Homo sapiens: one gene and its partners. The protein of the gene in region 2 interacts with the protein of the main gene of each other region in a biochemical or structural test. Each region holds a gene or a part of one and is shown on either strand. Other genes may lie near its edges.

Evidence for each region.
Region 1: the proteins of NTRK2 (region 2) and USP8 form a complex in vitro, tested with the Homo sapiens proteins (one study listed by BioGRID).
Region 3: the proteins of NTRK2 (region 2) and SORT1 form a complex in vitro, tested with the Homo sapiens proteins (one study listed by BioGRID and IntAct).

Annotation. Positions count from the first base shown.
Region 1 is NC_000015.10:50,511,311-50,514,982, forward strand, and holds the end of USP8 (ubiquitin carboxyl-terminal hydrolase 8), read left to right. Parts: 3' UTR 1-3,111; downstream 3,112-3,672. UniProt on the Homo sapiens protein: Hydrolase that can remove conjugated ubiquitin from proteins and therefore plays an important regulatory role at the level of protein turnover by preventing degradation. Converts both 'Lys-48' an 'Lys-63'-linked ubiquitin chains.
Region 2 is NC_000009.12:84,672,597-84,676,251, reverse strand, and holds part of NTRK2 (BDNF/NT-3 growth factors receptor isoform a precursor), read right to left. Parts: intron 1-3,655. UniProt on the Homo sapiens protein: Receptor tyrosine kinase involved in the development and the maturation of the central and the peripheral nervous systems through regulation of neuron survival, proliferation, migration, differentiation, and synapse formation and plasticity.
Region 3 is NC_000001.11:109,310,816-109,314,470, forward strand, and holds part of SORT1 (sortilin isoform 1 preproprotein), read right to left. Parts: intron 3,570-3,655; coding exon 3,446-3,569; intron 3,243-3,445; coding exon 3,228-3,242; 3' UTR 1-3,227.

The DNA of each region.
Region 1 (3,672 bases), on a different chromosome or scaffold from region 2:
TTCCAGTTGCTGGTGGGAACGTAAAATGCTGCTGCCACTTTGGAAAACAATTTGGCAGTTCCTCAAAAAATTAACCAGAGTTACCATATGACCCAGAAATTTCACACTTAGGTATATACCCAACAGAAATGAAAACATGTTTACAGAAAATCCTGTACATAAATGTTCATAGCAGCATTACTGATGACAGCCAAAAGTGGAAACAAGCCAAATGTCCATCACTGGATGGATTAAGGAAATGTGGTATATCCTATACAATGGAATATTATTTGGCAATAAAAAGGAATGAAGTACAGATACATGCTATGACATGAATGAAACTTGAAAACATTATGCTGAATAAAAGAAAATAAAAACAGAAGGTCATATATTCTATGATTCTGTTTATTAAAATACCCAGAATAGGCCAGGCACTGTGGCTCACGCCTGTAATCCCAGCACCTGGGGGAGCCGAGGCAGGTGGATCACTTGACGTCTGGAGTTTGAGACCAGCCTGGGCAATATAGCAAAACCCCATCTCAACCAAAATACACAAAAATTATTGGGGCATGGTGGTGCACACCTGTGGTCCCAGCTACTCGAGGGAGGGAGGAGGGAAGATCACTTGAGCCAGGGAGGTTGAGGCTGCAGTGAGCTGAGATTGCACCATTGCACTCCAGCCTGAGCAAGAGTGAGATATTGTCTCAAAAAATAAAATAAATAAAATTTTAAAAATACGCAGAATAGGCACATCTATAGAAATATATAAAGTAGAGGCCAGGAGAAGTGGTTCATGCCTGTAATCCGAGCACTTTGGGAGGCCAAGGTGGGTGCGCCACTTGAGGTCAGGAGTTCAAGACCAGCCTGGTCAACATGGTGAAACCCCACCTCTACTAAAAATACAAAAATACACCTGTAGTCCCAGCTACTCGGGAGGCTGAGTTACGAGAATCCCTTGAACCTGGGAGGCGGAAGTTGCAGTGAGCTGAAATCATGCCACTGCACTCCAGCCTGGGCAACAGAGCAAGACTCTGTTAAAAAAAAAAAAAATAGCGAGAGATCGAGAGAGAGTGCACGTGAGAAGACTAGTAGTTGCTATGGACTGGGGGAGAAGGAACGGGTTACAGGGTTTCTTTTGGGGATAACGAAAATGTTCTAAAACTGGACTGTGGTGATAACTGCACAACTCTGTGAATGTACTAAAAACTACTGAACTGGCCAGGCACAGTGGCTCACACCTGTAATCCCAGCACTTTGGGAGGCCCTGAGATGGGCAGATCACTTGAGGTCAGGAGTTCCAGACCAGTCTGGCCAACATGGTGAAACCACATCTCTACTAAAAATATTTTTAAAAATTAGCCAGGCATGGTGGTGCACCTGTAATCCCAGCTACTTGGGAGGCTGGGGCATGAGAATCATTTGAAACCAGGGGGTGGAGGTTGCAGTGAGCCGAGATCACACCACCGCACTCCAGCCTGGGCGACAGAGCCAGACTCTGTCTCAAAAACAAACAAAACAAAAACAACAAAAAACACAACTGAACACATTTAAGGTGAATTCTGTGGTATGTGAACTATCTCTAAGAACTTCTTTTTATTTAAGTTGGGAAACAAAAAGATCATGTACAACAAACCAAAAACAAAAAAGTTATTTCTAACCCATGTAACATATAACAAGGATCTAGAACATGTAAATGACTCTTTCCAATCAATAAGAAGAAAAATAACCCAGTTTGTAAAAAATGTGCAAAAGACAAATATTTCATACAATAGGAAAAACTAAAATGAGATAATTTTGTATCCATTAGATGGCAAAAATTAAGAAGTCTGATGATCCTGGTAGGGGTATGTATTGGTATAATCACTTGTAGAAAGTTAAATATGCACATACTTTATGATCTAAGTGACCTCACTCCTAAGTATATACATGAGAGAAACTCTTATGCACATATATATGCAGGAATGTCTGCATAATGTTGTTCATGCCAGCAAAAATTTGGAAACAATGAAATATCAATAGGAAAATGGATAATTTATGATATATTCACACAATATACATCATAGGCTAGTGAAATTATAACCACATGCAACAATATGGATATATCTTTAAAATATTTAATGAAAAAGTATGCTTGGCGCGGTAGCTCACACCTGTAATCCCAGCACTTTGGGAGGATGAGGGAGGTGGATCACCTGAGGTCATGAGTTCGAGACAAGAGCGAAACTGTCTAAAAAAAAAAAAAAAAAAAAGAGTGAAGAATCAAGCCACAGAAGGTAATTTAAAAATGTACACTCAAGATTTAAAAAGAACTACAATTCCATAAGAAAAAGGCAGGCCACAGAATAGGAAAAAGAATAAAAGACTTGTTTAGGCATTTCACAAAAGAAAGTATACAAATTTAAGTAGTTATTTAAACCACAATGCCATTCTACTATATGGGCAACCAGAAGGGCCAAAACAAAACGAACAAAAGACTACCAAGTGTTAACAAGGATTTAAGGCAACTGAAACTTCCAGTCATTGCTGGTGGGGGTATGAATTGGTACAGTCGCTTTGGAAAGCTACTGAGCAGTATGTACTAAAGCCAGACATATGCGTATTTCTGAACCAGGAGTTTCACTCCTAGGTATGTACTCAAAAGAACTGTGTACACTATGTTCACCAAAAAACAAGAATGTTTATAGCAACCCTCTTTGCATTAGTCAAAAGCTAGTAATTACCCAAAAGTTCCTGAATGGTAGAATGAATTACTAAATTGTAGTATTTTCATACAATGGAATACTATACAGCAATGAGAATGAATAAATTACAATATAAACAACAATATGGATGAACATTACATAATTTTGAATGAAAGGAGCCAGACACAAAAAAAGGATATACTGTACAATTCCATTTATACGAAGCATAAAATCAGGCAAAAATCTATAAATCTGTCCTGCCAGAAGTCAGTGGTTTTCCAGACTCGAAGGCAGGTACAAGCACAGTTAGGGTGCTGGTAACATTCTGTTTAAACTCTGTTCTGCTGGTTACATGGGTATGTTCACTTGAAAATCCATCAAGTTTTATCCTCATGGTTTGTGTACTTTTCTGTATATATGTTTCACTTCAATAAAGTTTATTTTTGGTCAAGGGCAGTGTCTCATACCTGTATTCCCAGCACTTTGAGAGGCCGAGGCAGCCCGACTGCTTAAGCCCAGGAGTTCCACAGCAGCCTGAGGAACATGGAGAAACCCTTCTCTACAATTTTTTTTCTTTTTGAGATGGGAGTCTCGCTGTGTCACCAGGCTGGAGTGCAGCGGCGCGATCTCGGCTCACTGCAACCTCCGCCTCCTGGGTTCAAGTGATTCTTCCTCAGCCTCCCAAGTAGCTGGGATTACAGGCGCATGCCACCACACCCAGCTAATTTTTTTTATTTTTAGTAGAGATGGGGTTTCACCATGTTGGCCAGGATGGTCTCCATCTCCTGACTTCGTGATCTGCTTGCCTCAGCCTCCCAAAGTGCTGGGATTACAGGCGTGAGCCACCACCCCTGGCCTACAAATTTTTTTAAAAAATTAGCTGGGCATGATGGCACTTGCCTGTCGTCCCAACCACTCAGGAGGCTGAGATGCGAGAATCACTTGAGCTCAGGTGGTGGAGGTTGCAATGAGCCGAGATTGTGCACCACTACTTCAGCCTGGGAAAAAGAGA
Region 2 (3,655 bases):
GGCTTCAGGGAACTTCAGAGCCTTGAGAAACTTGTCTGAGCATCAAATCCAAAGCCCTCAGTTTACATGTGACAAGCTGAGGCCCAGAAACATTAAAAGGCTGCTTCAAGATCAGGTAACTGGGTAGTGACTGGGTAGTGGTGACATTGGGATGAAGTTCCAGGTCTCCTGACTTCAGCTTTCCATGATATGCTTTTTTATTTTTATTTTTTGAAACACATAAGGAATAAACTTAGTATCTACACATTGCTTTTCTTTGCAAGATTTTTGTAACTTTGAGCACATTCACTCATCCATCTCCCAGATCAATATTTATAACTTCCCAGTCCTTTGGACACCCCAGAGAGCAAAGTAAGTGGTGAGAAGGCACCCAGTTATATGGGACCTTTACTTTTCTAATGGAGATTGATCAGCAATCAAATGTGAGCTAAAATTATCAGGCCACAGTGGAGCTCAGATCTTTGCCATTTGAGGCTTGAGGTGGGATTTGTTTTAAAATAGCTCAACCAAGTAGACTATAAAAATGATTGATCAACCATAAATAATCCAAGATTCAGGGTTTTTTTTCTTCCCTCTATCTTTCTCTCTCTCTCTCACAAACACACATCAAACAAGTAAAAACTTTGCCATGCTTCAATAGTCTCTCCCCCAAATCCTCCTATTGATTACAGGCATCAGAAGCAACTAAAAATTGGCATTGTTCCAAGGGGCAGGTCTTTCATGTCACATCCTACGCTATAGCTTTTGAACCTACAAGAAACTCTCTAGAGAAGTGGTAAAGTTAGCCAGAGGGATAAGGCCAGTTTATGGTATTCAATAATGGTTTGATAATGTTTTTTTCCCTAGCAGGCAAGATGACCAATGAGTTAAAACTGGATGCACTTGCTTAACACTCAAGGCAAAAAAAAAAAAAAAAAAAAAAAAAAAGGAAAGAAAGAAAGAAAGGAGAAGAGAAAAGAAATTCAATTCCCCTTCCCCAGCTAAACAAAAACACTAGTTTTTATACTCCTATGACCTAGATATAGTCAAAGAGATCATACAGAATATTACTAGGGAGAAAGAGACCTCAACTCTCAGCTGTTCAGCCAACTCTTCAGCTTAGAAAACACCTTTATAAGGGAATATTGAAGCAGACACAAACAGAGGTTTATGGGATAGAAACAGTGAGAGACCTTAAACAGACCTAAACTCCACACTAGGGAACTGGGACCACATTGCTTCAACTTCCCAATACTTGCTTGTAATAACATACAGCCCAGGCTCTTCTCTTAACTCCAGCATTCTGAATTCCCATAAGGAAATATCACTTTTCAGAGAAGAAAAAAATCAAACCCATTTTCCTGTATAAATAATGGGTGATGGAAGGGGAGGTGGAAGAAAGTAGGGTCAAAAGGGTCACAAGGCTTTTCCACTGTTTTACCCAGGGTAACAAAAGTGTCCATATTGCAGAGATTGAAGGTATGAAACTAAAAAGACTCCACACAGTTGTGCCAAGCTGATGTCTGTAAATACCTACACTATGAAGACAGCATGTTCTCAACTCCAGCTTGCAAGTTGTATTAAATAATGAATGATGTAAATTAGACTGCCTTATTCATTAACAAGTCTAGTGTGGCTTATGTAACCGTGCTCCAAATTTAAATACATGGCTCTTAAATGCATATAAGACACAGTCCAAAGTTCTAAAACCCCCAATGGAGGGGCTGAGAAGTAAACATCAGAGTAATAAAAATTGATGCCTTTCACTGAATCTTTGTGAATGCCAGGATTTTTTTTTAAGTACAATTAATTGCAATGGCAAAGCTTATTAAAGTAAGAGGGCCAAAATCAATGTATTAATGACACAACATTACAGCTGCTTAACCAGGCCAACAATAAATTGCACATAGAGTCTGTCATAGGAGAAGCTCCAAATTCTATTTAGGTTGTGCTAAGAGGAAAAATATAAGGCTGTTCTCAAATATTACCCCCAAATCAGAGAATACCACTGGAGAAATTCAAAAAAAAGATCCCTATTAGTCTTCATAAAGCACGTGCAACATAAAAATGCATGCCCTTCCACAGCAACATGGATACACAGAACACTACTGAACTGTAAGATGGTACATTTTAGGTTATGTATTTTTTTTTTACCACAGCTAAAAAAATGCACGACTTCTTTTGACTGTGCCTTTTACCACTTGGGTGAAACAGAACTTGTCCTTTGCAATGCACTTTGGCACTTAATACAACTGGGATTTAAACGGCCAGTTACATAATTCCAACAACAGGCTTCACTCTTGAATTCCATTGCATGTGACATTGGTACTGCGTTTAAATTCATTTTAACACTGCTGTGGTATAACCATTTCCAAATAACAGGAGCTGCCACTTAGCAGTGTGATGTTGAGCAGGCGTGATACATACCTATAGATAGATATTGATCTAGTTATGTCACATTAGTGGGCAAAAAATATAAAACAGGTACTGTGATGGGAAGATTTTTAATAAAATAGGTTCAATGACTCTGAAGACAAAATGTCAGCTTAGCTGAAAGCATGCATGTAAAAACAAAACAAAACAAAAAGATCCTACCTCTTGGTTAATCTACACATTTTTTTTAATGTCCCACTATTTGTGTTCTTAGAACCCTAAGGGCATGATGGTTTAATATATAGATGCTAAAAGATACACCATTTTTGAATGATATGGTAAACCGTTGTTTCAGCAAGTTGTGTGTTGCTAATCACAGTTTATTCACCACATTATTTCTATTTTTAAAAAATAGACGCACGTAACTTCAGCTACATACCACTAAACCAGAACTTTACAACAGGTTATTTTAGGAATACCACTGGGCCTAACAACAAAGTTTTAAAATATGTATAATTTGGTTCCAACTGTAGCTGGTATCCACTGGACAAGAATTTAAAAGCTGTGCAAGCAAATATTAATATGTAAGAAAAAGAACATAGATGGTGTCATATAAGGATGCGAGTGAAACAAGCGCATCCACTGATGTCATTTTTAGGTCAAAAAAGCAGAATTCAAAATAATTATATGGAGTACTTTCCAAAGAAGTATTGTCATACGAGTTACAGACAAAGGCACTGGGGCACAAACTGGCTGGGCTCACACAAAGCTGAGATAGAGCAGAGAAACATACTTTGTCTCAGGACTCACATCTACCCAGCCAGACTAATATTACTAACCTAATTCCCTGTTCTCAACACTTAGCCCTATATACCTCTCCAATCCCACAACCCCAAGAGGTTTTCAAATCAAAAGGGAAAAAAGTTAGAGTAGAAATTAGAAGTGCCACGATTGAATGAATAACTATGACACATGCTTTTGTAAATATTTTTAAAATCTACTTTAAAAAAGCTGAAAATAGGAACCTGCCATCAGATATAAAAGAAGCAACAACAATTGTGAGGACAGATATAAGAAAGCTCTGCTGAAATCAATTGATTTCATATACATCAGGCAGCTAAGATCAGGAAGGTCTGAAATAATAATTTTTTAGATTTAAAGATAGTTTTATTTCCTTTTTCTCAGATCATGGCCTTAAAATTATCAAACAGAAAAACAAAGTGAAAATGATCAGCCCTATCTTCTTTCTTTCTTCATTATATGCATCTATCACCTAAAACAGAATTTTAAAAGCACCACCACA
Region 3 (3,655 bases), on a different chromosome or scaffold from region 2:
CCTCCGTATCCTGGTATCGTGACGAAGGCCATGAGAACCAGCTCTGGTTTACAGACTCGATGCAGGAGCTGGAGGTGGCCAGCACATTACCAGCCTGTCAAGGATGAAAGACCACCTTGGGCATGGAGAGGCCCAGAGGCAAGCATCAGAGCAAGAGAGAGGAGGTGGGAAGTCCATTCAGAGGCAGACGTAGATTCTACGTTCCAGTTACGGCTGATCTATGGACTCTCCTGAGCCCGCCCCCAGAACTGCCGCAACTCTCCAAAGGCTTTTATTCTTTGAAATAGAGTTGCCATTGAATTAAAAGCCTACAGGAGAGACGGGCCTGGTCTGTGGTCTCACTAAAGCCCAATGCCCAATTAGGTCCAGAGAAGAAAGAAGAGTGAGTTCCCTACCTGGATTTAAGAACTCGGACCACTTTGGACTGGTTTGTCCAATCTCTCTTATAATGCTAAATTCCATTGCTGAAGCCTCCAGAAATGATCTCTTCTGCTACATCAAGCCTGGGAGTTTACACAATGATACACTATGTTTTACCTTCAAAGATAATGCTCCTAACATGAGTAGGACAAATTAGAAATCTATTTTTTTAGAAGCTGTAACAGATTTGGGCTTTCTTACTCTCTGGCTGAGGGCACACATTTGTGAGTGAGCAGGTTGATAAAGAAAGCTAACTAGCCAATAATGAGAATGAGCCAGGCTGGCTGTCAGTCTTCAAACCAACAGAGCTAGCCAGCCCGGGGTGGAAACCAGGATGGGGAGGGAGACCCATCAGTGGAGAGTCCACTCCTGCACTCTTGAGCAGTGACCCTCAATGAGGGGAGGGGCAGTTTCTGCAAACGTATTTAAAATTCCCATTACTTTTGTTTTCAGCCATGAAAGACAGGAAAATACAATTTTCTGTTCACCAAGGTGGCAAAAAGGTGCTAAATACTGCTAGGAAACAAATGCCACTGATCCCTGTCATAAAGAACAGCAAGTCATCTACAAGAAGGCAGCCTTGCTCAAAGTGGTTAGCACTCGCATGTGTAAAGATTTCCAAGAGTTCTGAAGACAGCCAGCCAGCACTGCTTATCACACACACGGGGACCCTGAACAACTGACTCCATCCCAAGAACATTGTGAGGTTCAAATGACATTATGTGAGTGAAGGTGCTCTGAAAATTTGCCAAGTTCCACAGAAATCCCAGATATCATTAAAAGCGAAGAGCCCTATCGTATATGGTTAGAGAAGAATATTGAGTTTCCTACGTCTTAAAATGAGTAAGAGGATTACCATGTATTGGTGCATCTGCCCACAGTGAGTACATGCTGGGAGAAAGGTGAGTGGTATAAACAGTTCTTTTCTGAGTACCAAATTCACTTTGGGCAGGAGGGAGGGTGGGGCAGAGGCTGACGTTTTCATTTGTGAGCTGGTGTATCTTCGGAATTATTTTTAATTTTAAAACCATGCAAAATGAATAAGCAAAAAGACTAGTGCACTCCAGCCCTAACCATATTATCTTCACAAAAACTGCCTCAACTTTATTTTCTAACTGAAGCTCCCTGACTCATTTCATTCTACTGCAGTTTTAACATCTCTAAAAGTCTCCATCCACTCTCTCCCCCACTTTCCACGCAGCTGTTAATCCATTCTGGGGAGGAGAGAACTTAGCCATCTGCTCACATTCTGACTAAAGTTAATTTGGCACTTCAAATAAAAAAAAAAAAAAACACACAAAACTGACTTTCTAGCCACAAAATAAACTAGTAGCAAATGGTATCTACCAAAGAATGTCCCAGTCATAATCATTGGGAGAAACTGTGACCCGCACAGTAGCTACATTAAGACCAAAAACTTTCCATACTATATTTCTATATAGCAAATATTCAAGCTGTATTAAAACTAATTATTGCAGCTTTCCATTACTATATGGCCACCCCAAAATCCACCCAACTACATTCTATAATTTATTTAATTTAGAGAGGTATCAAATGGAAAACTTCTTTTAATCCAAAATAAGAACTTAATGTATCACACAAAGCATCATCTAGACTGGAAGTGTGTTTTCAATTGGTTCCTCCAAAATTTTCGTGTCAACAAATTACTTGGCAAAGTCAGAAAAAAGGGGTGAGAAGGAAAGCCTGGTAATAAAATTCTAATTTTTTAAGTCTATAAATCTGAAAAAATCTCTAGTCCTGGTTCCATGTACAACAGCAACCTAAGAAGCAGCAGATAGGCAGCCATTGTCATGATTTAGCAACGAGCCACACGACAGTTAAGAAGGGAACATGGAAGACTGTGAGGTTCCGTCTTCGGGGGTTCACACTGTGTACCCGACAATCAACTCTAGGGAAGAGATCATTCAGCCTGGGCAGACTTCCAGCTAAGTTTGTACCCTGTCCTTGCGTAAGTCTACTGGCACACACACAAAGCACAGCTTGAAAAATCTCAGAAGAAGCAAGAGTTCTCTTTTAATAGGTGCTATATCTAGTCAATTCTCTGCTGCTCCCTTCTTCCTGCCCCAAGTTAAAAATATTGCCCTGTAAGTTTTCCTGATGTACTGTGTGGGAAGCACATGGTTAAGTTAGTTGCCAAAGGGCAATTAACAAGGGTATTGCCTAATTAAACAAGGGAAAAGAAAAATCACTGTGGTCTGTGGTCTCTGAAAAAAAAAAAAAGAGTAAGTGGGATCTGTGTGAGGAGCTGGTGTGCAGTGTTCTTGGAGTAGGACTGTCCCCAGATGGAGAAAAGCCGGCCAGGCTGTGCCAGCCTCTGCAGCCTGTTTTCATCTCTACAGCTGTTTCGTCTCGCCAGCAGAGCCCAGGGATGGTACCAAGTACACTGTGAGAGCTGATACTGGAGTTGGCAGATGCCCTGGGGCAGGCGCCATGCAGAACACACAGAAGTGGGGTTAGTGAAAAGGTCCCTTCGAATTCCATTTCGTTTCCCTTAAAAAACAAAAACAAAAAAGCCCATACTTTGCAAAGAGACAGGACGAGAAATAAGAAGTTAAAGAATTTAAAATGTCTCCCTTTTTCTCAGAGCCAATTGTAAAAAAGTGCTCAGGGTTCCCCACCCCCACCCTGCATTTCTTTAGTGTAGGTCCTTTTGGCTTTGATGGAAGCAGCAGAAACAGAGCTGGGTCCCTCGCAATGGGAAATTTATTTCCTGAAGTTGGAGCCACAGGGAGTGTAAGAGGTACTGTGGTTCCACCATCCATGCTGGGTCCAGCTCCTCTGAAGAGCTATTCCAAGAGGTCCTGAAAAAGACATGCACCATATTACCGACAGACCACAACACTCCTATTTCAAAAGCAATCACCTAGTTTCTGGGCTTGCCAAATCTTATGGTCATTAAGTCGCCTTGGCCCTGGCATATCTTGATCATGAATAGAAGACAGACTTTATTTTCTTGTATTTTTTGGGGGGGGGGGTACTACCATTCAAGAAGAAATAGCCTCACCTCATCTGAGTCATCATGATAACCACTTTTATTAGTGTGGGAGGCTGTGTCCAAAGCATCCACACCATCCACACCATTGGCCTCTGCATGCTGCTGCAGCACAGAGTATCGATGCACCAGGAACCTGTGAACAGAAACCTCCTTAACACTCGGTGGTACACAGCAGGGGTGCACTTCTTACAGGACTGTGGACTTTCTCAGTTTTATACA